4 separate regions of the Homo sapiens genome follow, and all the other regions are linked to region 1. The links come from fine-mapping of genetic effects on gene expression. A gene starts in region 1. Each other region holds a variant in brackets. All regions are shown on one strand. Distances are between the middles of the regions.

Evidence for each region. PIP is the estimated chance that this variant, and not a neighbour inherited with it, causes the effect.
Region 2: its variant is the best candidate, but not a certain one, in a credible set for the expression of LRRC4 in whole blood (TOPMed, PIP 0.75).
Region 3: its variant is the best candidate, but not a certain one, in a credible set for the expression of LRRC4 in whole blood (TOPMed, PIP 0.71).
Region 4: its variant is the best candidate, but not a certain one, in a credible set for the expression of LRRC4 in whole blood (TOPMed, PIP 0.57).

What each region holds. Positions count from the first base shown.
Region 1 is chr7:128,027,305-128,035,304 of GRCh38, reverse strand. It overlaps LRRC4 (leucine rich repeat containing 4), which reads left to right and starts at 3,868. Exons shown (of 2, transcript NM_022143.5): 1 at 3,868-4,392; 2 at 4,565-8,000. The coding sequence starts at 4,665. The coding sequence ends at 6,626. The region is part of intron 16 of SND1 (staphylococcal nuclease and tudor domain containing 1); the gene reads right to left. RefSeq lists silencers at 2,585-2,654, 3,305-3,424.
Region 2 is chr7:128,094,750-128,103,012 of GRCh38, reverse strand. No RefSeq gene overlaps it. Among named protein-coding and RNA genes, the nearest start is that of MIR593, 17 kb to the right of the region's middle. The variant T/C (reference allele first, on the strand shown) is at 3,399.
Region 3 is chr7:127,906,217-127,914,216 of GRCh38, reverse strand. The region is part of intron 14 of SND1 (staphylococcal nuclease and tudor domain containing 1); the gene reads right to left. Among named protein-coding and RNA genes, the nearest start is that of SND1-IT1, 87 kb to the left of the region's middle. The variant G/C (reference allele first, on the strand shown) is at 3,998.
Region 4 is chr7:127,999,232-128,007,231 of GRCh38, reverse strand. All of the region lies in intron 16 of SND1 (staphylococcal nuclease and tudor domain containing 1), which reads right to left. It overlaps SND1-IT1 (SND1 intronic transcript 1), which reads right to left. Exons shown (of 1, transcript NR_027330.1): 1 at 7,155-8,000. Among named protein-coding and RNA genes, the nearest start is that of SND1-IT1, 5.7 kb to the right of the region's middle. RefSeq lists an enhancer at 6,860-7,019. The variant T/C (reference allele first, on the strand shown) is at 3,303.

The DNA of each region.
Region 1 (8,000 bases):
TTCACAGAGCTACATATCTGAGATGGGACAGGAATCATGGACTAAGAGAGCGGTAAGAAACTTTCTAATCCATTTCCTTGATTTTATAAATGGAAAAACTGATGTTTAGAGCTATTTTAAGATTTGTCACATGTCTAAAGGGGACTAGAACTCAGGTATCCCAATCTTAGCACAGGGCTCATTCTATAATACCAGGCTGCTGACACAGGCCTTCCCCAATCACTGCTGGCTTTTTTAGCTCTCTCTGGCGTTATCACAGCAGTCTCCCTGTGTGAAACTGCAAGTGAAAACAATCTGAATCCACTGTCTCTTCCTCTTAGGGTGTAAGTAGCCTTCTTTCCTTCTTATTCTTTGGTGGCACCATTCCAAATCCAAGAAGCAGTCAGAGCCACGGGCTGTGAGGAGCAAGATGCCATAGCTAGATGGTACTTGGGTTACCAAAATGAGAGGCTGCAATCCCACTTTCAGCTCAGAAGGGCTGTGTGCAACGACGGCCCCACAGCCTCCTCTGTAGTCCAGTTAGTAGGTTCAGTGGTGCTTTCCTGGCCCAGCTGGCTTACAGGGGGCAAAGCAGCCTGATGTAGAGCTCGACAGAGCTTGGGCATAGTCACCTTCATGGATGGCAGTCACAAATACTTACTGAGAGACAACCTCATTACTAAGTACTGGTCTGACCCAACTCGGCCCCCACTTTCATCTACCTTTATAGTGCGGGGCAGCAGCTTTCATTTGTGGAGCCTGGAGCTGAACAGACAGGGTTTGAGTTTGCCTACAGTAGCAGAGGACCAGCCCAGGCAGAGACCCTGTTGCCTGAGGAGGGAAGGATAGTCATACTTAATCGCTGCCATCCAGACCCTGGCCAGGGGTCTCCTCAGGCAATAGATGACTCTACTAGGTCGGTGCCAGCTATAAAGGAGCAGAACCTCTCACCAGAAAGTCTGAGTGCCCAGATGGAACTAAACCCCAGTATCAGGGTTTGACTTACCTCCATGTCTCCCTCATTCTTTTTCTTGATGAGAGTTCATTTTCTCAGCCCGTCTCCTACCCTTCATCTTACTTCTCTGACACATCCTTCACTGAACTTTCCTACAGTCTCTCTCTCCTCCCCCCTCCACTTGCCTCCACCATTTACTCTATGAAGAGTAGACACAGCGGGCATTCCTGTTAGTGATGAAAACATCGGACTCAGGGTTTGAAGGCTGGATGGAAAGGCTGGCTCTGTTACTTTCTAGTGTGTGACCTTGGGCAAGTTATTTGCCTGCCTAAGCTAAGTGCCTTCATCTGTGAAATGGAGACAAGTGTGGCAATTACTTTCACTGGGTAAATGAAGATTAAACAAGAACAGATATAAGTTCTTGGTATGGTGGATAGTACATAGTAGATAAGCATCCCAGTAAATGACTATTGAAGTGGATGAATGAAACCTGAGTTCTCATCCCACTAGGAGAATACTTTGGGGAATCACTTCCACACCCAAGTTTCTTGACATCTGAGACGTGCTGAGGCTCAAATCCACTATCACTTACTAGTGACCCTAGGCAACGTTTGACTCATATAAAATGAATAATAGGGTTGCAGTGGAATACAGAGTAAGGGTTCAATAAACAGAAACTAACAAGGTTATTATTTGACAGCAAATGATAACAGAAAGGTCTTGGCAAAGAATGGGGACTCCAACTTGCCTACAAAGGAACCGTTTCCAGGACTTCAAGTATTCCATGGCGTATTTAAAGAGGTTCAGGTTACTGGGCAAAAGACAATACTCAGAAATAGGTGTGGTAGAAACCAGAGAGCTGAGAAATCTGGGACCTCCTCGTTCTTAAGCAACAGCCCACGCGCAGGTGATGAGGGTTTATCAAGCGAGCCTGCCAGAAATCACACGGGGAGAGGGGTGGGTTGAGGAGTCTGGAGGCAGCTCTTGAAGGGAAGGGATATTAAACCATGCTATATTCTACTGGACCGGCTTCCCAGGGCTCAGCTAGATTGCCTCACCCACAGTCGGCAGAGAAAGGGGCAGTCTTTTTTCAGGGGGGTGGGAAAAAGCTGACCTAGTCCCCTTCTCCTACACTAGTCTGTCAAATGCCTTAGGGTCTCCTACCAGAAATAGGAGCAAGAATTCCACCCCCACTCCCAATCGCTACCCCTGGCTGCTACGCAGTTCTTCTCAGAGTCCTAGCCAAGGAAGGGCTGGCGAGCTCACAGGGCAGGGGGCTCAGCCGCCCGCCTCCCTTCCCCCAGTTCTCTGGGGGCAGCGGGGAGCAAGGGGCGACTCCGGCCAGCGAAGACTGAGAAGCCGCGGCTGCAGCTCCATGAATGAACGGGCTGTGTCGTGGGCTCCGGGAGTTCACCTCAATCCTTCCTGCCGGCCTCTGTGCTGTCCCAGGTTGCCATTCCCCAGCTCATCACACTTGGTCATTCCTGCCACTGTTTCCCGCCCCCGCAACCCTCATTAAGGAAACCCTCATTTAAAGCCCCAGTGAGAGCACAGGAGGGGTGAGGCAAAGCGAAGGAGGGGCTGGCGGCAGTGCAGCAGCGAAGCCCGGGCTCTCGGTCCTGGGAGCCTCGTGGCCCCGGCCGCCGTCCCCCGAGTCCCCACCACGCAGTTCCGAACTCCGAACGCGAGTCCGCGCCCCGTCAGCAGTCAGCGGGGGTGAGGATGACGCGGGCCGGGCGAGAGGCAGGCCAAATGCAGCAGCCCCGCCGCGGGCCGCCGGGCCCCTGAGCCCCGCTCTTCAGAGCCAGGGGGCCCCGGGTGCGGGCCGGAGGGCGGGGGCCGGCGCGGGCTCTCCCGCCGCAGCCCCGCGCCGCTCCAGCCTATCAGCGGCCACCCAACTGCTCCCTCCGACCGGCCCAAAATAGCTGCGAACGCCTGCGACTTGCGCGCGGCCCCTCACTTGACGCTCACTCCGGCTCGCTCGCCCGCTCGCCCTGGCCCCGCTCCGCTCGTCTAGAGGGGGCGGGGAGGAAGCGGCCCGGGGAGGGGGGAGGGGGGAGGGGGAGAGAGGAAGAGAGGAGGAAGGAAGGAGGAAAGAGGAAGACGGGCGGCCGGAGGCGCGGGGCTGCGCGGCGCCGGCCGGCGCGGCGCTGGAAGGCGCCGGCGTTAACCCCGCGAGGCAGGCGACGGAGGGGGAGCGGCGCTAATACATAAGAGCACTGCATCACGCTAATCTTCTCCCAGAACAGTATGCGTCAGCAGTACATTCACGTTCTGACTGAAGGACAAAAGGATGAGAGAGCAGTCTGCGTGGCTGCCGCCTGCAACACCGCGAGCCCGGCGCGAGGAGGAGACGGTGGGCGCCGCGCGCAGGGGCCCCGCTGCTGCTGCTGCCGCCGCTAGCCAGCGGGGACTATGTTCCTGGGCTCCGGAGCGTTTCCCGCAGCCGCGACCCCCGCTGCTCACGCCGCTGCAGCAGTCCGCTGGCGGCGCGGCCACTGAGGGCGCCGGGAGCCGAAGCCGCGAACTCGCTCCCTCCGCACAAAGCCGGAGCCGGCGGCGCGCCGGGGGCCGGGCAGCGGCGGGCGGCGACGGGCGGTTGCGCGCCGCCGGGGGCTGCGGCCGCCGCCGCCGCCGGACCCGCGCCCGCCCCCGGACTCTCTGAAGGGGCCTGCGGTGCGGGCGCGACCGCGGGCGCCGCGCGCTCCTCCGGCCGGCGGACCGGGTCCGAGCGCAGCCGCCACGCCGCTGGTCCTCGGGGGCCGGACGGAGCGCCGCCCCGCGTGCCGGCAGCCGGCGGACTGGAGAACTGACCCCCCGTTTTTGTCTCTTCCACCCTCCGAGAAGAGGCGAGGAGAAAGGGGGTGTGTGTCTGGGGAGGGCGAAGGCGCCGCGAACACCTCCTCTTAACTCTCGCCGCTCCGCGAGCTCACGACCGCAATCAGCTGCCGCCGGCCCGGAGCGGCCGACGCCGGGAGAGGGAGCGCAGCATCCAGCGAGTGCGGCCTGGGCGGCTTCGGGGCGCCCCCGCACTCCCTCCGGCGGCGGCCCGCAGAGCGGGCCGGGGCCGCCGGAGCGCACTTTGGCGATGAAGCGCCTTCCCCCGCGGCTGGAGCGAGCCGGTGCCAGGGTCCAAGGACAAAGCCGGGAAGCGCTGGTGGCGCCGCTCCTTGGGCGGAGGGGGGGGCATGCACCTGCATAGCCCGCCGGGCCTTGGCTCTCCCAGGCGCGCCTCAACTCCGCGGCTTCGCCGGCTCCGGCTCCGGATTTACTAGAGGCCATTTTGTCTCCCCCACCCCTTCCCTCCCCTCCCCTCCCCTCCCCTCTGCCCTCCCCGCCCCCACCACTTCCCCCTTTTGTTAATTAAAACTAAGAAGTCGGAATGGGAACGAGGTGCCCAGCTCCCGTGGAGAAAGCTTAAGGACACCACGCCAGTGCTTTCCTGCCTTCCTTCCGAGGTAGGTGACGGCGAACTGGGTGGGGACGGTTGCAGTGTGGGAGAGTCGTAGCTTTCGGAGGGCTTGCCTTGAGGGTGGGTTGGGAGACCAGGGGCCGCTCGAGTTTGGCAGGATTTTTTTCGGCCGATCCGCTCCGTCTCTCTAATCGCCCCCTCCCCACCTCCTTCTCCAGATGGAAAGAGGAGCTCCTAGCTCACTTAAGCCGGGGTAGGGCTGGTTCTCCTTTCCGAGCCAAAATCCCAGGCGATGGTGAATTATGAACGTGCCACACCATGAAGCTCTTGTGGCAGGTAACTGTGCACCACCACACCTGGAATGCCATCCTGCTCCCGTTCGTCTACCTCACGGCGCAAGTGTGGATTCTGTGTGCAGCCATCGCTGCTGCCGCCTCAGCCGGGCCCCAGAACTGCCCCTCCGTCTGCTCGTGCAGTAACCAGTTCAGCAAGGTGGTGTGCACGCGCCGGGGCCTCTCCGAGGTCCCGCAGGGTATTCCCTCGAACACCCGGTACCTCAACCTCATGGAGAACAACATCCAGATGATCCAGGCCGACACCTTCCGCCACCTCCACCACCTGGAGGTCCTGCAGTTGGGCAGGAACTCCATCCGGCAGATTGAGGTGGGGGCCTTCAACGGCCTGGCCAGCCTCAACACCCTGGAGCTGTTCGACAACTGGCTGACAGTCATCCCTAGCGGGGCCTTTGAATACCTGTCCAAGCTGCGGGAGCTCTGGCTTCGCAACAACCCCATCGAAAGCATCCCCTCTTACGCCTTCAACCGGGTGCCCTCCCTCATGCGCCTGGACTTGGGGGAGCTCAAGAAGCTGGAGTATATCTCTGAGGGAGCTTTTGAGGGGCTGTTCAACCTCAAGTATCTGAACTTGGGCATGTGCAACATTAAAGACATGCCCAATCTCACCCCCCTGGTGGGGCTGGAGGAGCTGGAGATGTCAGGGAACCACTTCCCTGAGATCAGGCCTGGCTCCTTCCATGGCCTGAGCTCCCTCAAGAAGCTCTGGGTCATGAACTCACAGGTCAGCCTGATTGAGCGGAATGCTTTTGACGGGCTGGCTTCACTTGTGGAACTCAACTTGGCCCACAATAACCTCTCTTCTTTGCCCCATGACCTCTTTACCCCGCTGAGGTACCTGGTGGAGTTGCATCTACACCACAACCCTTGGAACTGTGATTGTGACATTCTGTGGCTAGCCTGGTGGCTTCGAGAGTATATACCCACCAATTCCACCTGCTGTGGCCGCTGTCATGCTCCCATGCACATGCGAGGCCGCTACCTCGTGGAGGTGGACCAGGCCTCCTTCCAGTGCTCTGCCCCCTTCATCATGGACGCACCTCGAGACCTCAACATTTCTGAGGGTCGGATGGCAGAACTTAAGTGTCGGACTCCCCCTATGTCCTCCGTGAAGTGGTTGCTGCCCAATGGGACAGTGCTCAGCCACGCCTCCCGCCACCCAAGGATCTCTGTCCTCAACGACGGCACCTTGAACTTTTCCCACGTGCTGCTTTCAGACACTGGGGTGTACACATGCATGGTGACCAATGTTGCAGGCAACTCCAACGCCTCGGCCTACCTCAATGTGAGCACGGCTGAGCTTAACACCTCCAACTACAGCTTCTTCACCACAGTAACAGTGGAGACCACGGAGATCTCGCCTGAGGACACAACGCGAAAGTACAAGCCTGTTCCTACCACGTCCACTGGTTACCAGCCGGCATATACCACCTCTACCACGGTGCTCATTCAGACTACCCGTGTGCCCAAGCAGGTGGCAGTACCCGCGACAGACACCACTGACAAGATGCAGACCAGCCTGGATGAAGTCATGAAGACCACCAAGATCATCATTGGCTGCTTTGTGGCAGTGACTCTGCTAGCTGCCGCCATGTTGATTGTCTTCTATAAACTTCGTAAGCGGCACCAGCAGCGGAGTACAGTCACAGCCGCCCGGACTGTTGAGATAATCCAGGTGGACGAAGACATCCCAGCAGCAACATCCGCAGCAGCAACAGCAGCTCCGTCCGGTGTATCAGGTGAGGGGGCAGTAGTGCTGCCCACAATTCATGACCATATTAACTACAACACCTACAAACCAGCACATGGGGCCCACTGGACAGAAAACAGCCTGGGGAACTCTCTGCACCCCACAGTCACCACTATCTCTGAACCTTATATAATTCAGACCCATACCAAGGACAAGGTACAGGAAACTCAAATATGACTCCCCTCCCCCAAAAAACTTATAAAATGCAATAGAATGCACACAAAGACAGCAACTTTTGTACAGAGTGGGGAGAGACTTTTTCTTGTATATGCTTATATATTAAGTCTATGGGCTGGTTAAAAAAAACAGATTATATTAAAATTTAAAGACAAAAAGTCAAAACAAAAATATTTTCTAACTTGTAAGTTCTATTTAAAGGGGGTGGGGGGGAATCTTGGGAACGTTGTGGGGTACAAGCCACAAGTTAACTTGCTATGCTGCCAGAAGGGATTTCTGGTATAAGGTTGAAATTGCTGAGATAAAATAAACTAAAACAACAAACATCCTTAAAGAGGTAGGGTGTGGGCTGCTGAGGGGGCAAGAGGGATAGACTGAATCTGTCATTTTTTAGAAGATGCTTCATAGGACACAGGACTATCCATTTCTACAGACATCTTTCTTAAGCCGAGAGCTGTCTTTGCAGAATTATCTTATTAAAAAAAAATACAAAAAAAAAGCACCATGAATTTGTACTGTGCCAAAATGATAGTGGCAATAATATTTTTCTTCAGAGGCTAAGGGGAAGATAGACCTGTACATGTATTTTAAGCAGGAAAACCACCAAAATTCAAACGAACCCTTAAAGGGGCTGAGTCTTTGTCCATGTGCACAAGTCTTGGGGGTCTGTGCACTGGACACACATGTGCCTTGCCTGACAGAATTGCTTAGAAAGGAGCAGAGAAGGACGGGAGCTGGCGTAGCTCTCAGTCTAATGCTTTCACATTGCACCAGATTCCTGCAGTTGGGCTTAACCCACTCTGCAAGGCATGTGTCTATTCAGGGTTTCCCAGGAGGAGGAGGCCCCTGAAGGGGTGCGGCAGCAGGGGGGTGGGAAGGGAGGGTAAAGCAGAGAGAATGTATTCACAGGAGGCCATAAATTAGCATTGTGCCATGTCCACCTGTTGTTCCTGGACTCTGACACATGATTGTAGACAATGATGGCATTTTATGATTTTTAAAAAAGATTTTGTTTGTTTTAAGGTGGAGAGGGAGGAGAAGCCTGAATTGGGGAGCTTGGGAGTGGAAGCTTTTCTCATGCTTGTGATTTGGTGACTCTTCTAAATGCTGATTCATTAGGGATTATTACAGCGGATGTCAACTGGTTGTGGTGATGGGGTGGGGGCAGAACATGAGTAGCAAAGAAAAGGGAGAGACGAAAAGGGTACAGGCTCACGTAAAGTAATGAAGCCTTTCCCAACCAGGATGGTTCACAAAAAAGCTGTGAGATCCACAGTTACAAGTGACACGCATGCACACATGGAGTTCCACATGGGGTACTGTTGAATGGAGCACACTGATGGGAAGCTTCCCTCTCCCAGGCCCCCTCAGGAG
Region 2 (8,263 bases), 68 kb before region 1:
GGTGGGACCCCATGCCCTCTGCCAGGACTCAGCTGCACTTTTAGTCATTCACTCATAAATCATTTATTGAATACTTGCAAGTCATGGACTCTAGGCCTGTCTTCCAGAGGATATCTGTAAAACCGGGGGAAGGGTCCTTCCCTGATAAGACTACCCATAAAGTGCTTAGCCCTTGTGGGAGCACACAGATCTTGAGCTGCTGCTGACATCATGATCATTTTGGAGGTGTACAGTCTAGAGAGCCTACACTCCAGAGCTTAGCTCTGCCTGCACTCTATGTTGGCCCTGGAGCTCCTAGAGCAGAGATTCTTCACCAGCCTCAGCCCCAGCCCCTCTCCTCAGGCAGCTTCTCCTGCAGAGCTGTGCCAGGGTCTGGCTCTTTCCCTTATATTTCTGGCTTTAGGTAGCATGAGTCTTGTTTGCTCCCTGCCTCCAAACTCAGGCCTTGGTCAGACCTCCCAGGAGCCCTCTGTGGGAACCAGGTGGGCTTCTCTACCTACTACCTCCTGCTGGTAGCCTCTGGCCTGAAAGGGCTGGGGAGGGGATAGCTCCTCAGGGTGGTCCTTTGGCCCAAAGCACCTCCTGGGAGCCGGTTAGAAATGCAGATTCTTGGCCCTGCCCCATACTTACTGAAGGAGAATGTGCATTCTAACAAGATCCCCAGATGATTCACAAGCAAGTTAAAGTTTGAGAAGCGCTGCTCCAGGGCCTGCTGGCCTGGAAGGCACCAGAGGAAAATGGAAGCTTGGTCTTCAGGAAATGCCCAAGGAGCCACCTCCAGGTTCAGGGCCTTAACTCTTCCTGCTTCTGGAGAACTCTCTTGTCCCTGCCTTTAGGGGCCTCTCCCTCTCCCCAAGAAAAGTGGTCTCACTGAAGTTTACCAGGTTCAAGTATCTGCAGATAGTATCAGGGGACTTGACTGGCTCAGCTGTGGGTCCCTTGTGCCCAGCAGAGAGTAGGTGTTTAACTCTGCTTATGAACTGCAAAACAGTATTTGCAATTGGAACACGATAGCAGTAACGAGGTAAGAACTGATTTGGGCGCCACTTCCTTGAGAGGGAGTTTCCAGCCCTCTCTGCAAGCAGAAGTGGATACTTGCGTCAAGGATGCTGTGGAAGTGCCCCCTACTTTGATGTAGTAAGATTCCTGAACCCTCTTCCCATGAAAGCACTGACACAGGATGGCAAATATATGGGACACACATGACCATCCCCCTTTCCCACACCCTTGGTAGACATTAATAATTGATTACAGCTGACTTTCTGGCATGACCTTAGAATCCTTGACTACAGGGCACCCCAGGGAGCCACTATCAATTGATCAGACATGGCACTATTTGTGATCTCTGCCTCGGGTCTCCCCCCTGGGAGCTGCCCTCTACAGATCAGGCCAGATGAGACAAGGCCGCCAGGCTAGTTCCCAAGGACATCCTCCTCCCTGCAAACCCGAGTGCCTGTGCGACTGCACCTTGTGAAGCCCCCTCTGGAAACGGCCCTCCCCAGCTGTTGAGTAAAGTGCAGCTTCAGATCTGTCTTTGCCCACACGGGTCCTTCTCACTAGGGGTCAAGGTCATGTAAGTGGCTCATCATGGTGGCCTCTGTGCAGCTCCTCACACCCTGTGTAACTTGGAATCAGGCACCCACCTCTTCTGGTTTGTCACCCTGTCAAATGGGAATGTCCCCAACTGTCATGCACTGTGTGCCACTCACACAGTGGACATGAGGACGGCCTAGGAGGTGCCCCCACATCAGTGCTAATACTTCCTGCCTGGCATGATGCCCTTCGCCTGACTCTGGAGGGCTCCCTCTGCATAGCTCTGCTCCCTGGGAACCTGAGACTAGTGTTTCCCTGTTCACAGCCAGTGAGGCCTATGTGCTGGAGTCGAGGCAGGAGTGCAGCTGTGATACTGGCTGCTCCCCCTGCATCCAGGCCCCAGTAAACTCCATCTCGGGGCTTCCCATGGTGGGTGGGGTGCACTGCAGCATCCTGCCCCCTAGCACTGCCCCTGCTCCACCCCACTCCCTGCCCATGGTCCACTCAGCCCCAGCACAGGACTTTCTCCAGAACTACACCCACATCAGCAGGGAGGAGTCATTTTCTGCTGCTGGTTTTCAGGTCTGTGAATCAGAACTGGCTCCTCCAAGAGGCATCTACACACACACACACACACACACACACACACAAACACACACACACACCCCAACCCCTACCACTAACTTCCTTCTGCTGTCTAAATCCAGATTTCAGGTCTGAGGCAAAGTGTCTATGTGTAAGTTTTGGCTAGGCATGGTGTCCTCCATGCCAGGTGAGTATGGGCATATGTCCTCTCCCTAGTCCATGCAGCCAGGAGCTCTGTGCTGTTTGCTTCTGTAACTTCAGCACCCAAATGGTGCCTGGCACGACAGGTACTCAGTGCACATGCGCTGAACACCTTAGCTACAGGACTAGTTCCACGCCAGCAAGGTGAAGGGATGGAACCCCCTGCCCTGGGTGTGCATGACTCCTGCTTCCCATCACTCCACAACTGGACAGCCAGAGACTCAGCCCAGTCATCTCAGCCTCCCCACCCCCCACCTCCTGACACCTTGACTCCCTTCTGGCCTCAACCCCACAATGCTCTCAAGAGCAGAGAGGTTATTCCATGCCTGCACCCTCCTCCCTGGGTGATAACAGCAAACACTGAACACAGAATCTGTGCTGGGCCCTGTGTAAAGTGCTTTACAAATCTCACTGAATTCCTTTTTTATTTTTTTAATTAAAAAAAAAGTAGAGCTGGGGTCTCACTATGTTACCCAGGCTGGTCTTAAATGCCTAGGCTCAAGCGATCCTCCCGCCTTGGTCTCCCAGTGCTGGGACTACAGGCTTGAGCCACCGCGCCTGGCCTCTGAATTCTTTTATTAACCTTACGATGTAGGAATTTTTATCTTTTATTCTTCAGTCTACAGATGAGGGAACCGCCTCAGAAAGGTTAATTAGCCCACTTGGGGCACTCGGCTAGCGTGCGGCACGCTAGGACTCAAGCTCAGCCCGTCTGCCTTCAGAACCAACCATATCCTCCACCACTGACTCCTTGAGATCAATCTCATGGCCAAGTTCTTGACCAGCACCAACTTGGCCTGATAATTATTAGTCTGTCTGACATCTATCTATCTATTGATTCAGTCTCTGAACTCAGCCTATGGTTCTGCTTCTTTGAAACCCAAACTCCTTACCCACTGGTCAGGTCCTGTCCTGAGCATGTGTTAGGACAGGCTGGAGGGAGGTGGCCAACTCAGGCTTGGTTGTTTCTGCAGTGGGCTGGAGGGCGGACTTGGCTCCATCAATACCATTTCCTCTACTGTGACATCTCTGAGGCTGAGACTGCTGACCACAGGTGAGTCAAGCATGTAAACGCATTG[T/C]GAAGCCAAACAGAAGTATCATTTAGAATAACCGTAAGTAGCTTTGGCCTCATTTTGTTCTACGTAATTGAGAACACAAAATGTTAACACCACAGGATCTGTCTTAGACCTGTGGCATTCACGTGGCTGCAGGAGAGTGAGATCTGCCCAAGTGGAGGGGGAGCTGGCCTATCTCCCAGGCCCAGATGACTCCTATAGATTGAAGCTGCCTGCTCACTGAATTGCATCAGTATCACCTGATCCATAGCAGTGACTGGGCCCAGGGCCTAGAATGACTCGATTGAGCTGGGATAATAGGTCTGTATTGCCTGGCTAGACACAGCCAAGGCCCTCAAGCAGCAGGGTGAGGGACCCTTGTCTCCTGCTGGCCTTGCCTAAGGTTCTGAGGCAGCTGTGAAGAGGTTGGGGGGGTAGGGGCTCTGAAGCCCCTATCCTACCTTGTGTCAATTCAAGCCCCAGGCACAGGCACTCTGGCAAAGATACCTAGAGATTGTAAGGTCCCATCATGTCGTCAGGACTATTTCAGGGAAAAAATGTCCTTTAAAAGACCCTGGCACCAAGAACAGCCCAAACTATGGTGATAGGGGTAAAAGTTGTTGCTTTCAGGGATGCTGATGTTCTACAGTCGATCCAAATGGTAGCTTCACTATATATATTCGCAAAAATCCACATATGCTTAAGATCTGTGCACTTCCCGTAACTTACACTTTAATCTGAAGTGAGCAGGGTACCTTGAAGTCAGTGTCTCGTGCAGGCCTGGTCAGCTCTCCCTGTCCTGGATGGCTGCTTTTTCCCAAAAGGGTGGGGCTTCAGCTGGTCAGTGCCCAGGGCTGGTGAGAACAAAGTCCCTAGTTTTGTGGCCACACGCTAGACTTGGAATGCAGAGAGCCTTCTGAGAAGAGCCCCACCAGCCATGAGAGGGCTTTGCTCAGTGAGTTCCCTCAACCAGACCCATTGTTTATCAGGTAAACTGTTGAAGTTGTCACCCTGTCCTCAAAACCTTCCTCACCTCCCTGGAAGAGCTTTCTCCTTTGAGTTCCTACACTTTATTAATTTAATAATGTAATAGCCATCTATAGACCCACCTCCCAGACCAACACACAGAACATTCCCAGTCACTTATGTCTCCCCAGCATCCTTCCTTATCTCACCCCTGGGGTCCGCTGCCCCACCTGGAGGTGACCACCATCCAGATTTCTGTGTTTATCATCCCTTTGCTTTTATGTTTTATATACATATATGTGGGGTGTCCACATGTCCCAGTTTACTGGAGATAGTGTCAACTTACACTTGCAGTCCAAATGTCAGAATTTGTGTTCCTTTTTGCTCGCAAAAACATCCCTATTTGGACAATAAATTAAATGATCACCTAGATACATGTATATCTAAGCAACGTATTTTTGGTTTTGAGCTTTAGAATAATGGTATTATATGATATGAAGTTCTCTGAGATGTGCTTTATTCATTCAACATTATTTCTGAGATTTATCCTTGCTTTGTGTGGCTACAGTTCATTTTCATTGCTGAGTAATATTCCATTGTGTGAATACCTTGCCATGCCTGTAGTGTCTCATTTCTGTTTGTAGGAACAAAGCTGCAGTGCCCATTCTTGCATATGGGTCCTGGTGGTTTTTTTGCTTTTTTTTTGAGACGGAGTCTCACTCTGTTGCCCAGGCTGGAGTGCAGTGGCGCGATCTAGGCTCACTGCAAGCTCCGCCTCCCGGGTTCACGCCATTCTCCTGCCTCAGCCTCCCGAGTAGCTGGGACTACAGGTGCCCGCCACCAGGCCTGGCTAGTTTTTTTGTATTTTTAGTAGAGACGGGGTTTCACCGTGTTAGCCAGGAAGATCTTGATCTCCTGACCTCATGATCCGCCCGCCTCGGCCTCCCAAAGTGCTGGGATTACAGGCGCGAGCCACCGCGCCAGCCGGTGGGTTGTTCTTAACACATGCAAATAGCCCCTGGCCACAGAACCAGGAGGAAATTGCTGGGTGATGGGGCATGGCCACTGTCAACTCCACAAGCTAAGGCCACAGCATTTGTACATACATCAATTACATCAATTAGGTCTTTCTATCACCAACATCTGTTCTCAGTATACTGTGAGCCCCACGAGGCCAAAGATAACTCTCCCTTTTTCTCCCAGCCCTTAGAACAGTGCCTGGAGCAGCTCAGGAAATGCTAAATGCCTGAATGTTCAGGGGCTATGGATGGCTCAGGGCAGACTCATTCCCATCCTGGGGAAAGAAACCTCAAAGATGTTGCTGCTGGCAGAGCCACAGGAGCAGCCCCATTTTTGCATGTGCTGGTTCCTGCAATGGATCTGCAGAAATCCAGGGCACTGTCAACATGCAGTGGTTAGAAATATCTGCCTGCTTGAGGGCTCTGGGCCCGTGACAGGAGTCACTCCTCCGCCCTGTGCAACGACACCCTAGCCTCCTTTGTCTGAACTGGGACCCCAGCTCACCCTGCAGGCCCCCGAGGGCCAGGCCTGCTGGGATGGATACCCTCCAAGGCGAAAGCCATGACGGAGAGAAAAATCATAGGCCTGGGGCCGGGAGATCTGTTTTCTATTCCTGGCCCTGCCATTAATAAACTGGGTGACCTTGGGCAAGTCACTTTGTCTCCCTTCTCATCCTATAAAATGAGTTTGGACAGTGATAGCCAATTCTTGAACTTGAGAACTCATCAGAATCGCCTAGGAAACTTGTTAAAGTGGATCCCCAGGCCCCACCCCACGGGGATTGGGGTAGTAGGTCTGGAGTGGCACTTAGATACATGTATATTTACATGACAATGAATTTAAAAAGACCACTGAAAACACTCACAAATGGTTAGAAAATTCAATAGTAGAGATTATAATAAAAAGCAGCGCTTCCCATCCCTAGTGTGCTACCTACAGGCAACCACTTTTAATCATGTTTTTGATCTGATGGTTACTATCTTATTGCTAAATAATAAGCTAGTTCTTGTTTTATCAACTTCAGACATTACCCATTGTCTTCCTGCTATGACAGATGAGGAGGACTCAGCTCACTTACCCCCCCACCACTCCTAATATAGTTCTGGCACTATTTTTGGAAGCTGTATTTTAACGAGCACCCCAGGTGATTCTGATGTAGTTGGCCTGCCAGCCACACTTAGTGCCTAGTGAGAGCTGGTGGCGACACCAAAGTGCCCATGGCCCATTTCTGAAGCCCCTGGTTCTGCTTGGCTTCTGGACTTGCTGGTAGGCCCTGTCCCTACCTGTGGAGGCTCAGAAAGGCTGGGCACAGGGGTCACACAGACAAGCACACTGTTCTGGGATTGTTGGGGACGGAACTGCCTTGCCCCGTCATCTTGCTTCCCCTTCTCATCTCATGTCACCTTCTGCCCCCAGTTGCATCATTAGGATGAGCAGATTTCTCCTTTAGGGCCTGACACAGCCCTAGCAGACAGCTCAATGTCTGACTTCTAATAATCAAGGAGTGGTGTATTCATACAATGGACCACACAAAATGCACAAGCTAAAATGAACCTAACCACGCAGATGAATCTCACAGGTGTGCTGGGTGGAAGACATCAGGCACATAAGAATACATATGGTTTGAGTCCCCTTATGTAAAATGTAAAGCCACGCAAACCAAGAAAAACAAATCAACATAAAAACATAACAAACAAAATAGGCCAAAATCATCTACTGGGATAGAAGTCAAGAGGGGTTACTTTTGGGGGTGAGAGCGGCTATGGAGGGGTGCATGAGGGGCTGCTGATGCTTTTTGGTGTGTGTGCTGTTTATGTGGGTAATGTTCACTTTGTATTTGAGCGGTACCCTTTTCATTTGTGCACCTTTTCGAATGTGTCTATTTCCTTATAAATGTTACCTCCCTTACAGGAATGAAGACAAACCAAGCAGCTCTCCTTCCTCCCTCCTAAACTCCCCCTTAAACAAGCCCTTCCCGGAATAGGACCAGGCAGGCTGAGGAGGCCAGAAACATCCCTGTGTGGTAGACTGGGGTTGGGGAGGTGGGTTTGGGGCTGGAGCCCAGAGACCTGATCCTGCCAGTCTTGATGTATTCCAGAGTTCCAGCCTGGTGCCCCACAGAGCAAAGCTGCCTGCTGGGTCAAGGAAGTGGCTGGAAATGAGGCCCAAGCATGTTACATGGGAAGGATGACAAGATACTCGCCAGCCAGGACCCATGTGCCTTCTTCCCCACCTGCTCACAGCCAAGCTGTCCAGGGAGAAGGTGGTGTATGGGCCCCCAGTCCGCCTCCACAGGCTGCTGGCCAACCTAGTGTAAATATTATTACACTCCTACGCATCTGAAGGACGTTAATTATTAAAACACATGCCACCCAGGGTAGTGCACTGTAATTAGGTTCAAATTAAATTAGCATCCTCTTGTAATTAGGACATCAATAACCACTCTTGAGGCACCAGCTTTCTAGCCCATCCCCATTGCTTCCCAATATGGGCTAATGCAAAAAACGGGGTCCACTCTCTCCCCAGGACGCAAAAATAATCAAACCAATAAATAAAATGGAGGCAGTCACGGGAGCCCTTCTCTCCACTGCCCGCCTTCGCTACTAATCCTGTCCACCAGCAAGAGGAGGGAGATGAGGTCGCTGCGGAGGAGTCTCAGCCACCAATACTTCCCTGGTGGCTTTCCCAAGCCCTGGGCTCTGCTGCATCCACCCTCGGAGACCAGGAGACTCCTCAAGCTGCCCAGAGATAAGCGATGCCTTCCCACCATCTGCTAGCCCCAGCTCTTCTCCTTTCCTCTGGGAAACTTCCCAGCCACCTGGGCCAGGGCCTCTGTCCCTTAAAGTCCCAGGGCACCACCCACTGCTGTGGCTTGTTATAGATAGCATGCATCTGCTGCCTCC
Region 3 (8,000 bases), 120 kb after region 1:
CTACTGCGGGTGAAGTATCTGGGGATGTTGCAGTAATACAAATCAATATAACACAGGTCTTCCTCCAATTTAGAAATCTGGGTAATAGCTTACATTTTCAGGCCCCTTCCAAATTCGATACTGTATTAGGAATTCTATAATTTCTTCCTGAGAACACCATTTGCTGAACAACTGAGGCAGAAAACGACCAGGGCATTTCAAAGCAACCCTGAGCTCTAATTTCAAAATATCTGGATGTTAACACTGCAAGGAGTGTCCAAAATTCTGTACGACATAGTCTGTAGGGAATATGTTGTAAGCATGCTAAATAAAGACTTAAAATACAAGTAAGCAGAATGTCTATGTTAGTGAAATTACTTACTTTGAAATGTTTATATAAGCAATAGCCACAGGACACAATGAGTTCAATCCAAGGCTAAGTAGTGTTATGATGGTAAAGTGGAGAGTGAATCTGGGGCTATGCAGAAATATTTCAAATTTTATCACATCACTCAGCAGCCATGGGACAGATCAGACAATCCAATCACACACCTCAACCTGGGAATCTGAAATTTTGTCAACTGCTGCCAAAATATACTTACAATCATCCCTGTAATGGGCTCATTTAACCTATTTTGACCCATGAAATAGAATCATAGAGTGTTATCTACATACACCCAGAGAATGGGAAAGAGAACAACCGAAGAGCATGGACCAGCTATAGCCAAATCTATGGCCAGAGGAACTCTCTTTGGAAAAATATGCTACTTTATTTGGAAAAAATGTTCCTAACTCCCTCAATTTCCTTTCTCATGTCTTTGAACAAAGAAGAAAGGCAAAAATCATTATAGCTCAGTACACTTCACTAAAAGCTAGGACCCTGTTGCAAATGCTGAGTGCATTTGCATGCACTCCTGTTTGTGAAGGCACAGTTAAACAAGGAAGCAGAAGGAAACTAGAAAAATTTATGGCAGAAAGTTTCCTGATAATAGAATCCACGACAGTGACATGCTACTGATTATACTGGGAGGAAGATGTTTTTGTTATATAAGAACGAACAAATAAAGAAGCCCTGTCTCTTAACAGTGCTCCACCTCTGGGCAGCTCACCTGAGCAAACATTTTCTGAGGTGTTGAATTGCAGAGCTAGGACACTCATATCAAAGGACAAGAAGCTGTGCCCTGCTTTCAAAGTCCAATCCTAGCTCCCTACCTCAAGGTTATCTGCTCTGGTGCCTGAATTTTCCAAGACAAGACTGTTCTGAATAAAAAGTTAAACCAAGTAAGGTACAGACTTGGAACCAGACATGATGCAGATGAAAGAGACATATTCACTTTCTAAATTTTTCTTTTTTTTAGAACTTTCACAACCAAATTATTGTTCATGTTTCCAGGTACAGAGGAGGCAACAAAACTAAGATTTTCAAAGCATATAATTCTATAATCCTTTATTGCCCACTATATATGTGGTTTTGTATTTCTCTTGCTTCTACAATTGTTTCCCCTGTTAAAAGATAATTTTCAATAAGGTAAAGTCTTGACTCTTATTCAAATATAAAATAAACTCATGTAGAAAATTTCATTTTAACCCCACTAATTAATGAGGGAACCAGAAAGGCTCAAAGAGACTAAAGAACAGATATAGATAAGTTACTAGGAATACTGAGGTGAATTTGCTACAGACGCAAAAACAGAGTCAAACTAGGGAGTAAAAATGTAAAGTTTGAAATCATTTCTCTTACAGGGTGGGAATCAATTGTATCTCTTCAGGACTACATTTCTACATCTCTATTTACAAAGATGCAAAACAGCCCAACTAAATGAAGCTAAATAAGAGAAGTGAGAAACCATGTCCTAAATTGGGTGCCCTCCAAAAACAACACAACTCAGTCAAAAAGTGGACTAAGATCTACAAAAGGAGGTAATGAAACACAACCATCATTAACTGTGGTACCTGCTGCAATGAAATTTTGAAAAAAATTCCCATGTAAATCAAAAATGCTTTCAAATTTATTTAAGAGAGGGATGGCCCTGTAGTTCTGGCAAATTTGAATAGGGGAGTTTCAAAAAACAGAAAGTGGTTGCACAGAACCACTTTGTCATATGAACAAAGAAACTATAGACAGCCAGGTGTTGTGGCTTATGCCTGTAAGTCCCAGTTACTTGGGAGGTTGAGGCAGGAGGATCTCTTGAGCCCAGGAGTTCGAGTCCAGCCTGAGCAACATAGTAAGATCTCATCTTAAAAAAGAAATAAAAGAAAGAGAGAGAGAAACAAACCATGTACAAAAAAACTCCAACACAATAAAGCTATGTCTTCCATCATAAGGGTGAGGGCAACTGGCTGAAGCAACTCTCTGGCAGAATCAAGATCAAGGTCTTCTTAGTAACATCCAACTCTTAGCAGAGACATGCTTTAGAAGAGGTGAAAAGAAAAAAGAGGGCCGGATGCAGTGGCTCATGCCTGTAATCCTAGCACTTTGGGAGGCCAAGGTGGGCAGATCATGAGGTCAGGAGTTCAAGACCAGCCTGACCAACATGGTGAAACCCCGTCTCTACTAAAAATACAAAAACTAGCTGTAATCCCAGCTACTCAGGAGGCTGAGGCAGGAGAATTGCTTGAACCTGGGAGGCAGAGGTTGCAGTGAGCTGAGATGGCGCCACTGCACTCCAGCCTGGGCAACAGAGGGAGACTCCATCTCAACAAAAGAGAGAAAGAGAGAGAGAAAAGAGGCCAGCCATGGTAGCTCACTCCTGCAATCCCAGCACTTTGGAAGGCTGAGGTGGGAGGATCACTTGAGCCCAGGAGTTTGAGACCAAGCCTGGACAACAAAGTGAGACCCCATCTCTATTTTTTTGAAATAAAAAATTAAATTGAAAATATAAGAGAAAAGAAAAGAAAGAGAAAGAGTTTGAAGTTTTTTCCAAAGTCTGGGAGAAACTTACGAGGTGGCTGCCACTTTGGCATCAGAGGTTGTGTGCCACAGAGGTGATGGCATGTTTCTGTGCAGTGAGGATCCAAGCCAGTCACCTGTACATTGTAGTCCAACTAGAGTTCAATAAACTTTGCTTGAAGAAAGAAGAAGAAAGAAATAGAGCAATAGCTTTTCCTAAATTAGTGACAACTTGAGCTACGAAACACAACAGGGAGGCAAGGAAGCCACCAGGATAACCCAACACTCCCACCAACCATGGCTTCCAGGCAAGGGGCCAACCATATTTAGAGAGGACACACTGCCTGCTCTGGAGAGCAAGTTCTGCAGACAGTGAGCTGGCTCTTCCAGAGTTCCTTTGGGATTTTCTCGGATACCAAATGCAGAGCCCAGCAGTGGAGCCAGCAGCTACTGTGTGAATGAAGCTCCAGTGCTAGGCAACCCCTCCAGGTCACAGAAACCCACCCGGCAGAACCATAGGCCTTGATGTTGTGCCATCTGTACAATAACTTAGACTGCAGTTGGCAAGAGAGACGTGAGAACATGATGTAGGGCCATGATTTTAGCCAAGTGGGGTAAAAAAGGGAAGGGCTATTTAAAACAACAAAAAACAAATACACTCAGAGAGCATTTGTGCCATCAAATACCAGAGACTAGAAAAAACAGAAAGCTGAAAGGAACATTAGAATCATATGAGGGTAAGAAAAATAAATCTAAACTAGGTGGGCCAGAAAACATATAAGAAAAACTGCAATTTAACACAGACCTAACTCATAAAGCCCCTGGGTGATTTTGCTCCTTTTACCTTCTTCAGACTTACCAGGCAAACCACTTTTTTCTTTTTTTAATTCTCTCTTTTTTTTTGAGATGGAGTCTCACTCTGTCACCCAGGCTGGAATGCAGTGATGCTATCTTAGCTCACTGCAACCTCTGCCTCCCAGGTTCAAGCAATTCTCCCTGCCTCAGCCTCCCAAGTAGCTGGGATTACAGGTGCCCGCGACCACGCCTGGCTAATTTTTTTGGTATTTTTTAGTAGAGATGGGGTTTTGCCATGTTGGCCAGGCTGGTCTTGAACTCCTGACCTCAGGA[G/C]ATCCGCCCACCTCAGCCTCCCAAAGTGCTGGGATTACAGGCGTGAGCCACCGTGCCTGGGCTTTTTAAAACTCTCTTTAGCCAAAAAGAGTAATAATTTTTTTCTTATGCTTCCATCAAGGCCTAAATATTAATAAAGAGCTAAGGAAAGGTAACACCTACAGAAACCTCAAAGAAAGGATGACAGTGCTATTAAAGTTTAAGAGGGCAATGAAAACCAGAAACTGAAGGCAGAGGTCAGGAGCAGATGCTGGAGAAAATCCAACCCTGTCTACCAATCTATTTCTTATCTATTGATTTAATCTTATCTAACTGTTTTAAAGGAACACTTCAATCCTTCACATTAGCAAGTCAGAATCCTACTGGTCAACTCTGTAAGACTTCGTTTCATGAATAACAGGGCCCCAAATGTCTGACCTTCTTCCCCTGTGCCCTGCACCTTCCCCAAAGCTAGTCACTGGATCATTCCAAACCATGGCTTAATTTTTAGGCTAGGGTGGTGGCTCATGCCTATAATAGCAATACTTTGGGAGGCCAAAGTGGGAGGATCACTTGAGGCCAGGGGTTTCAGATTGGCCTGGACAACATAGCAAGATCCTGTGGGTGTGATGGTGTGCACCTGTAGACCCAGTTACTCAGGAGGCTGAGTCAGGAGGATCACTTGAGCCCAGGAGTGAAAGGCCACAGTGAGCTATGACTGTGCCACTGTACTTTCAGTCCAGCCTTGGTGATAAAGTGAGACTCCGTATCCTTAAAAAAAAAAAAAAAATCAGAAATACTACGTATTTCTAACAAAATCAGTCACGGAGAAAGGTGGTTATAAAAAAGTGCTATGTGACATGAGCATGAAACCAAGCCATGATGTGATTAAACGTCCAAAGGAGCACAGCAGCAGTTAACAGATTAAAAAGACCCATGGATTAAGAGAGTAAATACTGTAATAGTGAAATTAACAGAGGAGCTGTCAGGACTACATAATATGAAATGGCAGAATATATTCAAAAGAAGACAATCCCTATTCTGGGACTTTCAGAAATAAGACTGAAGAGGATGCTATCTTCTTGTACCATCAAACAAACATCGTAACTCCTCATGCACAGAGGACAGACACAAAAGGAAAAGGACAGAGAAGAAAACTCAGATATACACTATGACTCATTGAGTCCTACTCCCATATAAGAGGAAGATGGAGAAGTGGAGGTAAAGGTAAATGGTAAAATCAGCACTCGCAGGGCTGGCTGCAACTTGAGGAGTGGGGAGCTCTCTCTAATCTCAGAACCATAATTGATTTGTCTGATCTACCAGAACAACAGTAAGCCATGTACCAGCCCCATTTTATTGCCTGTTTTACACTCTGTATCTGCAGGAGATTGTATTTATTACGGAGCAGGCTACAGCAAAAACAATAATAAACCTAAGATAAAGAACAGCTGAGAAACCTGAGATAAAGAACACTGACACACATACTCCAATTTTTTCTATGCTGGTGAGGGAGGGAGCTCAGACAGGATCAATGAAAAACAAAACCAACTAATAATGAAAACATGTATGTATGAAGTCAGTCACCACAGAACCATCCTTCAAATCAAGTAAGACCTAGTACCAAGTCGGTCAAATTCTCAGCTGGTTCTACACACTCTGGAACACCCTGGCTTGAAAGGAAACTAGACTATGATAGAAATGGCAGCAGTGGCTGGTACTTCTAATAGCCCAGTTCCTACTCTGTGAAAAATTGGAAATAACAAAAAACCAGTAACTTCTTCAGGATCTAAGGTACCAGCTTGGGAGTATGTAATTTTCTTCCTTTAGTGGTTACCCTAAAAATAGGTGTAAGAGACGCAGATGGGTCAACACGCACGCACACACACACACACACACACACACACACACACACACACACATTTATTATTATTTTTTTTTTGGTAGAGATGGGGTCTCACTACACTGACTACAAGACCAAGTTGGTCTTGCATTCCTGACCTTAAGCAATCCTCCCACCTCGGCCTCCCAAAGTGCTGGGATTATAGGTGTGAGCCACCACGCCCGGTCTAGAGGGCCAAATTTTTTATCAAAGCCCTAGACAAACTGGGGGTTCATTCAGTTGGTGTTATATGCAGATGTTCTGTCCATCTTATGGACAACTCAAAACTCAGTTGACCTTGACATCAAAACCCATCTGTAATAACAAACAAAAAGGCCGGCTTATTTGGCCACTACAGAGGCTGGTATCTTACGTTCTAAGCCATAAACCTCACACTCCTGTGCTTAGATGAGTCACTTCCAACCATAAGCAATCAGCCAAGCAGGTCTTGTATTTGCTAGGTCTTCATACAAAAGCATTTTAACGCACTCTGACCTTTACTCTGTGAAATCATTTTTTAAACAGCAAGAGAAGAGATCATGGAAAAGGAGTAGAAACTCAACCCCTAAAATGGAGGCAGTTAACACTAGAACAAAATTACAGGTTATTTGCTCCACCATTATGATATAATCTCTTCCATACAACACATTTCTTAAGAGTGTTTAGGAGACAGAATGTGCACTTAAGCATGTCTTTTTCCTCACCAACAATGTGTACTGGGATGGAGAGGAGGGTGGTGAGAGATATTATGCACAAACACCAGTTCATTGTAAATTATTTTGGCAGATATTGCCTACACTGTCAGCTCAACAAAAACCTCCATTTATCATGGCCTGCAACTAAGAGGGGGATCAATCTGGGGCAGTAGGTAACACAGTTAAAGATTAAAAAACAATTAAGAAACCTCTGTGAAACCATTACGTATATGTGCATTACATTGTCTTTTTCCCTGTTTATTTTTCATCTGGCTGTAAGCCGTCTGCCCATCTGACCTCACACCTGTCCCACAGACAGCAAAATTGCCAGCATGCTTCAGGAAGCAGAAAACCCATACATCTCACTTAAATTGAACAAGGGCACCCAACATACACACAGACTTAACACTGTGATGGAAAGAAGGGAAGAAGGTGGGAAAAGACAAAACTCCTCTATTAAAGAGGGCACCAAAAAAACTGCACTCTTAGGTGAATAATTTGTGATTCAGGCAGACAAGGTCATATCTGACATCCATTTAAATCGAGCAGCTTTTTCACTTTCAGTCTCCCACTTGCTCAAGCTTTACTCTTTTATTTATGTGGTGACTGAGAGAAATTTAATTGGCATTTATGTTTAACTTAAGAGCAAACCAATCCTCCAATACTGAGACAGAAAAGATAATAAAAATTGGTATGAAACTGAGCTAGAGTTTAAGGGGGAATTGGTGGGGTAGGAACAAAAGTAAATAAATAAATGAAGACAAGTTTCACAAGACCCACTGCTAATGACAACGGAAATAAAGGAATAAAAAAAGCATCAGAAATCATCAAGGCAGGAGGCAGCATAAGATTCAGAGACAGCAATAAAGATCTTTAGGATACCACACTGAGGGGTGTGGAGAGGACAACCCTGAGACTGGTGTGCCTGAACCTCAAAACCTCCTTAGAGTTGCTTCACCTCACTGTTGGTGCCAAATCAGAACTAGAAATGAACTCAGGTGGGCCCAAGGAGAGAGCCTATCCCTAAGGTTGAAATCAGCTTCTGGAAGGCCCTGGAGTATGGGCCCCACATAAGTTTTTGGATGGGCATATTTGGCCCTTTGTGTAGACGGGTTTTCATTGCATTTTCCAAAGCACTTATAACTTTTTTCTCCTGCTGAGGAACCACCAAAAATTTGCCCTTTTATTACTATAACAGCTTTACCAAAAGACAAATATTAAGGAAAGCATTGTTGAGAATGCCATGCACATACATAAAAATATTAGCAATATATATGCAAAGAATAACTCAGCTGGGTAAGCTACACAGAAAACAGGCCAAGTAACATCGCACTGGATGAGTTACACCTGTTAAAAATGAACATTAGCAGATACACCATAGTTACCTGTGGCTCAAAGGCCATTAGCTACAGGTTTCTGGGCTTCTCAGGATTCTAAGCCACAAAAA
Region 4 (8,000 bases), 28 kb after region 1:
AAGATCCGTCTGACAAAGCTGAGGAAGATGATGGAATTGCCAGGCCAGAATGGTTTATTAATGATCCATGGGAAAAAAAACAATTGTCCTGCTGGCAGCTTCACATGTAATTAACCAGCTTCACAGAGAGCTGGCTGCCTTCTCCAGGCCTGGCATCCGCATACTGCAGAGCTACCTGACACAGCAACACTGGGTTTCTAACAAAATCTCGCTACTGGGAGAGGGGCATCTAAAATAGTGACCTCAACCCACTCGGCGCTCAGGAAACAAGACTGAGATGGCAGTGCTCCTCCGGAGAAGGCTGGCTGTGTGCTCGGGCTGACACAAAGACTGCGACCTCCATGCTGGCAACAACCAGCCCTGGGAACTGCCACTCCCACTGCTCACCATTAACTGCCCACTCAGGTAAGTGGCTGAGCAGGGTTCTCTTCCAGGTAGCCCTCCAAATGCAGCCTCTCTGCCAAAAGTCTACATAGGCAGGAGTTTCTGGGAATTGGCTCACTTTATGCCACAGCAGCAAACTTCAGCACTGATGGGAGTTGAGAGGGCCTGGTGACCACACTGGGTGTGGGGGACAACAGTTGCTTCTGTGTAAGAACCAACAACCTTCAAAATATGGTACATAAAGGAGAAGCAGCAGCTGGGTTAGCCAAGCTTTGGCTTTGTAGTCAGTGCCAACTTCCCTCTTAAGAGTCCTGGGATTCAAAGAACCCTGGTCCTCCCACCAGGTGAGTGAACTAATACATATTTGCCATTCGCAATGCACAGTTTTTAAAATGTGCATGTAAGTGTGTGGCAGCTAACTGTCCTATTTGGGAGGTGGGGGGAGGATACCCCATTACCTTTCCCCAAATGAGAGTCAAGAGACTGTTCCCAGTGAGGCTGGTCAAAACACACATGCACGCACACACACACAAGGATCCACCATTACCTTTTCCAAGTGAAAGTCAAGATACTGTTCCCAGTGAGGCTGAACACACACACACACGCACGCACGCACGCACCCTTCCCATGCTTGTTTCTCTAGGGCAGAAAAAGAAGCTGAGAAGAACTGTCTCCACTCTACATTCCTGGTGGATACAGAACCCTCTAAGAACAAGAACACTTCCTTCACCCACAGCCCTGCTAAGGCCAGACCCTGGGCACCTCACATTCCCCCAGGGTCAGCTGAAGTTACTACTTGAAGGCTCATGAAGGGAATGACAAACCTTTGCACCTTTGGCAAAAGCAGAGCCAGTTCACAGGGGTCATGGACTTTTCACTCAGCACACTCATTTTACATTCTGTGGAAAAAGATAACAAAGGAAGGCTGTGTCCTTTAGAAAAAGGTCGGGGGCTGGGGGTGGGGACTTGAGAAGTGCTGGGGGAGACTGCAGCTCCATCAGCTGATGCCGTATTGCCTCTGCTAGAGAGCCCAGCACAGGTGGGGAGCTCCTCAAATAAAGCAAGCCTCGGAGTTGGAGACCAGGCTCCACAGCAGTTTTCCTGTTCAGTACCTGCAGTCTCCTTCTTCACCCAGCTTTGATTACAGGAGTCAAACACAGTGGTTCTCTCATTCCTATCAAAGCAGGTTGGAAAAAGAAGTAATCCCAACTGTAAATCAGCAACCTAACAGGCATTGGGAGAGGTCACTGGTGGCTTGGTAGGAAATGGATAGCTCATGACAAATGAATTGGTACTGCCTGCCATTTTTTCTTGCCATCACTTGAATCAATAAGGGAAAAGGTGAATTGCTATTGATCTCTTCAACACCTTTCAACGATACTGTACAAATTACAGAAACACAAGGGGGCGGGTGAAAGAATGAAAGAGGAAGGACAGATGAAAGACTGTCTGGGCGGTGTAAGCCTGCATGTATTTCCCTGGAGGCAGTCTTCCAGTCACTGGGTGTTAGGCATGCGTGGGTGCACATGTGAGTGTGGCATGAAGAGCCCTTTCTCACACCTGGAAGGGCTGAAGGGCTGGCTACGGAGGGCCCCTCTGCACCTCACATGCTGGCAATGCTCCAACAGGGCTACTTCGCTTGATACAAGGCTAGATTATTGAGAGGTGCTGTGAATCCCAAGGCCTCATGAATTTTTGAAGTTGTCACACGTTAGTGGTGTTGGGATAGGCTATCTCAACAACTGACTATAATTCTGGACAGGAAAGCAAGAATCAAAAGCTTCAAGGGCAATCTCTAGCTATACCTTACTAACCTCACTCCCTGGCTGACATGCCCAGAAAATATAGACAGACAGCAAATAAGGCAAAGCTATCTTGCTTCGTACTTGAAAATAACAAAGATTACGGCAGCTAGGGCACAGGCCTGTCCTTTTAAACACTCTGGGCAAAAGACATGGCATGAATATCAGAGGCCTGGGTCCAAATGTTAGAGGTCTGGCTGTAAACCTAGGGTGAAACGGATACTGACCACACAGGCAAGATTGCAAACTCTATGTAAATACGGCCTTATGCAGACAACCAGGAAATAAGACACACGGTTATGATGGCTGGGGATAACAACCCATAACACAAAGATGAACATCTGATGTCTGTTTTCATCTTTAGCTCAGGAATAGTGCAACCAGAGCGGCAAAGACTGAAGGAACCCCTAAGTCCTCTGGGACAGATTCTCTTTAGGATATGCTGCTTATCAGAAGCCAAAGTCAGTACTCTACTCATGTCCAGAAAAAGGCAATGCAAAAGATTTCATGGCATAGAGAAAAGGAAATATTGGCCAAAGTTTAGTCCAATGGGGAACATCATGGTCAGATCTCAGGGTCCCAGGCCAACAGTTCTCCTATTCTACCAACTGGGCATAATTATTCAGTTGCTGGTGACAGAAAAAAATGTTCTGACCAGAGGTCCCTCTTCAGGTCACACAGCACTCTTAGTGCATCATCTGGGGTCTGGGTGTCCTTAGAAACCTCCCCACCACACCTGAGTATTCACCTTTTAGCATTCTCTAGGCAAAAGAGGGCTTAGTTCTTCCATTTTGCAGCTGGCAAAACCAAGGCAGGCAGTCACTGACATGTAAAAACAATGAGAGCCCTTCACAACGCTCCTGGCACCCTTGCTTAATCTCCAGAAACTGACTCAGGGTATAACTGTATCATTCAGAAATCAGTTGATATCACAGTTAGCCAGTCTACCCATCTTCCTCCCACAAATACATCAAGGGCCAAAACATAGGGCAAAAAAAAAAAAAAAAGAAAGTAAGTTACAAAGCTGCTGATGTGTTAGAGTGGAAATGCTGAGATTAGGAGGAGGAAGTGGTTAAGTGCACCCTGGGTGTTTGGAAATGGCCACGTCTGCAGCCC[T/C]GGAAGCTGATGAAGAAGGAGCTCTAGCCCTCTCTGCCAGGCAGGCCACGAGACCAGCCCCTCACTCCAGAGGTAGGGAGCTTGGCTGTGAAAGGGCATGATGGTAAGATACAGCTATTTAGCAAACACCAGTCCCCTCCCACAAGGCATCTTCAATTCCAAAAGTGACCCTATTCTAAAATTACCAAGTGGCAGGTGGCCAGGCCAAAAATCCATATCCAATCAGTGCTAATGGACTGTTTGTTGCATTTCCTCATATATGGCTGCAGCACTGCTATGAAAACCCTGGGTCGGTGGTTTGAGATTTATTTAACTGGAGAGGTAACGGCACCCCAGCACCGCAAGCATTATAGAGATGTGTGAAGTGAAATGGCACATGCAGGCTGCTGGTGGGGAATGGAGGGACCTGTTGGTCTTATTTGCATGATCTTCCACCTCTAGCTGTACACCCAATGCCAAATCCTTTTCTGGTAACCATTAAAAAGAATTCGACTGCATCAAGAGAAGGGAAAGGGGAGAAGAGGAAGGCATATGTTAAGCTGAAAAGGAAAACAGCACAGTGAAGCAGTTTCCAGTTCCTTCTTTCATTCTCGGTTCAAGAGGTACCTGTTCTTGCTACAGTGACCCAAACGCTTCTTCTTGGAGGCCTTTTCCTATCCTTTTCAGTCTTGTTTAACACCTAGATTTTTCTTTTTCATTTTCATTTTTTTCTTCTTTTTTTTGGAGAGTCTTGGCTCTGTTGCCCAGGCTGGAGTGCAGTGGCACGATTTCGGCTCACTGCAACCTCTGCCACCAATTCTTGGCCTCAGCCTCCTGAGTAGCTGGGACTACAGGGATGTGCCATCACACCAGGCTAACTTTTGTATTTTCATTAGAGACAAGGTTTCGCCATGTTGGCCAGGCTGGTCTTGAAATCCTGGCCTCATGTGATCCCCCTGCCTCGGCCTCCAAAGTGTTGGAATTACAGGTGTGAGCCACTGTGCCCAGCCTGTGTTACCACCTAGTTCTTTCTTTAGTGCTTCTGCTGGCACTGTGCTATCTATCTTCCAACTCTTCAACTTAATGCAGGTCAAGGACAAATCTATGGCAATCCTGGATTGTTGTGGTCATGGTAGGAAAGTATGGAGACACAAAGGAGCACTGCTATTCTGTCAGAGGATAAGGAAGCCTGTACCAGCCAGGATCTAGTTAGTTCATACCCGTATCCCTCATTTTCAAGTTGCTGTGACAATGTCACAGAGGACCTGCATCAACAGAAAAAGCAGAGAGCCCTCACTGTTGGCAGATTAGTCTCCAAATACCCCTATGGCAAGTGGAGAACACTGCAAAGATGGTCAAACCATTATTCCTTAGACATCCATGAGGTATGTGTGGAGTCCTGGTGTCACCCCTCCCTTGGTGATCACCTTATCAGTCCATAGCCAAGTCTAGAAAAGGCATCTTGCATAGGTTAGGACTTGCTGGCATTATCTCCAGACCTTTGGTTTTCCACTGAATGTAATACTGCCTAATGTGTGGGACCATGAGGAATCAGAGACAAAGAGACCTTATGTTATTTTACTTCACAGAATAAAAGACTGGCTGATGTCCTGAGGGTACTTAAATAAATAATCCTTTGCAAACTTAGACCAAGGATGGAAAATAGGTTTCCGTTAAGTGCCAAATCCTCTCAACTGGTAGTAGTAGCGAGGATCCCTGTTTTGAGAAGGATCTGAGCCCTCAGCCAAAGCAGCGCGGTGACTGACTGGCAATGTCTGCCATGGGTGGACAACCCGAATAGGGGTAGCATATGCATATGTGCCATCACTGGCTTAGACAGGCTGGGGGAGTGAAGAGCACTGGGAGGGTTGTTCTTTGTTGATTCTAATCTGAATGCTGCTCACAACACACATACCTAGATCCAGCCTAGAACTCTACTCTGGTTTTGTACATACTGAAGTTCAAGTCCTAAATTTCAGTTAAGCCCTGAGAGAATTTCTTTTATTTTTTTTTGTTTTTGAGATGGAGTTTCGCTCTTGTTGCCAAGACTGGAGTGCAGTGGTGCGATCTTGGCTCACCGCAACCTCCGCCTCCTGGGTTCAAGTGATTCTCCTGCCTCAGCCTCCCAAATAGTTGGGATTACAGGCATGTGCCACCATGCCCAGCTGATTTTGTATTTTTAGTAGAGACGGGGTTTCTCCATGTTGGTCAGGTTGGTCTTGAACTCCCGATCTCAGGTAATCGGCCCACCTTGGCCTCCCAAAGTGCTGGGATTACAGGCGTGAGCCACTGTGCCCGGCTGAGAGAATTTCTATTAATAATAAAAATGATGCTGTAAGCTACCATTCACTGAGTGTTTAATATCTTGGGTTGTGAGGAACAGTTTACACATACACTTAATTTTCACAGTAACCCTAGTGAGAAGGTACCCTCCTTACATAGGTGAGGCAATTAGGTTTAGCAGGATGGCTGCATTGCACAATGCTAGGGATAGCGTTCATATTAAATTCTAATAGGCACTGAGATTGCCCTCGGTTTAGAGAGGCTAAGGGATGTGTGCATGGTCAGACAGCAAATGGTGAAAGTGGAATGAGAACCTAGGTTTGACTTTTCACATGCTAACAGAGTTTCATTAAGAAGGAAAAGATGCCCTTAAATGTCCTAAAGAAGAGACTAAGAATGAGCTATTCCTTTCTCACTATGTGAAACATGTTGTTTTGACCAGGTTAGGGTATCTCTGTTCTTAATTCTCAAGCTTGCTCATAATCTTATTTCATGCACCGCAGCATTTCATAACAGACCATTGGTCACTTTCATTTTCAAAATCCATTTAAGTGCAGCTGACCAGAAACCGTCACGGGTGGAGTAGCAAGTGGAAAGTTCATCAATAAAGCCAGGTTTGGAACACGGAGGTTCTCTTCAAGTCCTTGGCAACAGACACAGGGAGTGGGCATGCTAATGGCAAGAACAGGGCAGGGTAAAGGTCAGCTCATCCACCAGAACAGTTGCCCCTCTGTCCTTGGGCGAGTCACATGTGAAACACCACAACGTTAGTATTACCTGGAGAAAAAATGCCATCTACAGTCTGCTTGTGCTCTGCTGGTGGCTCAGGCAGCCTTGCTATTATACATTAAGAGCTGTGTTCTAAAAAGATATGAGTTGAATTATGTAATTCCATAGGGGATATTCAGACAATGGGCATGGCTTGCAATGTTTAGGACAAACGGAACAGGGAGGCCTGAAGCCTGAAGACACTCCAAACATACCACATTAAAGTTCACTTGCCAGGTGCAATGGCTCATGCCCGTAATCCCAGCACTGTGGGAGGCTGAGGCAGGCAGATCTCTTGAGCCCAGAGTTTGAGACCAGCCTGGGCAACATGGTGAAAGCCTGTCTCTACAGAAAATAACAAAACATTAGCTGGGCATGGGGACACGGGCCTGTAGTCCTACCTACTTGAGAGGCTGAGGTGGGAGGGTCACCTGAGCCTGGGAGGTTGAGGCTACAGTGAGCCATGACTGTGCCACTGCATTCCAGCCTGGGCGACAGAGTGAGACCCTGTCTCAAAAAAAAAAAAAAAAAGAAGCAAAAGCAAAGCAAGCTCACACTCAAGTCTGTATGGGTGTTGGCCAATGCTCTGGGTTCAGAAGTTCTTCTGAAAACAAGTAGTGGGCAGGTCTGTGTGAGGTCATCTTTAGTTTGTCAAGAAATTATCTGCTTGTCTGTAGATACTACCAAATTAGGCTTCCAGAAGGAAGTTAACAGATTTCACAATAGGTATTTCACCTGAAAAATAAAAATTCTGAGCTGCTTTTCTTCAGCCCTTTGTTATTAAAAATATTAGCTTCCACCTTTTTTTTTTTTTTTTTTTTTAGAGAACACTCACCAAAGCTCAAGAAGCAGTGACTATTCAGGATGATTACAGAGGTAAGAGAAACTAGGAATTGTTACTAGGAGCACCTGATATATCAAAATGAAATAAATGGCACCCAGCTCTCCTAGCACAAACCCTACCTCTCAGGGGAGTCCAGCAGTCTCTTCCTCCTGATAACATTTTTCCATTTATTCTAGGTCATAGGCCCTACATAGCTATGAGAGGGAGACCAGGAGACTGAATGTGCCTGGCAATAGCTATCTTCCATAGGAATGGCTCATTAAGAATATCATTTCATGTCAGATGGGTAGACTGTATCGAATACCATGAGTGGCAAGGGTTCTGCTTGGCAAGGCTCTGTTTCAAGGACTTTCATGACCTTATGTGATCCAGTACATGCATTCCCCAATTGCAATCACTGCCCACTATCCTCATCATCCAGCTTCAATTGAGATGAGGCATAAAGTAAGTACTGTGGACCCTTCTAGCAGAAAAAATGCAAGAGGAAATCACATGTGAGGCTTTTATGTCTTTACTCTGGGCTGAGCTGGGTTAGACCTAAAGATGGAGAGGAAAAGTGAGTGCCAGGAGTCTTGGAACTGCTAAGGTTTCTATTGCTTCTACTTGGGGGGAAAAATGAAACTGTCAGGTCTGAGGACTGTATTTCTTCCTTTTTTTTTTTTTTGATAGGAACAACATTAAGAAAAACAAATTGATCTGACAGAGAAAACATAAAACTCTCTTAAGGAAGAGTTTACTATAGTAGGGACACATTCCCTAGGGGAAGGGAAGGGAAGCGTCTGCTGAAAAGGATTTTCTTCCCTGGGCTAGAATTACATCCTTGA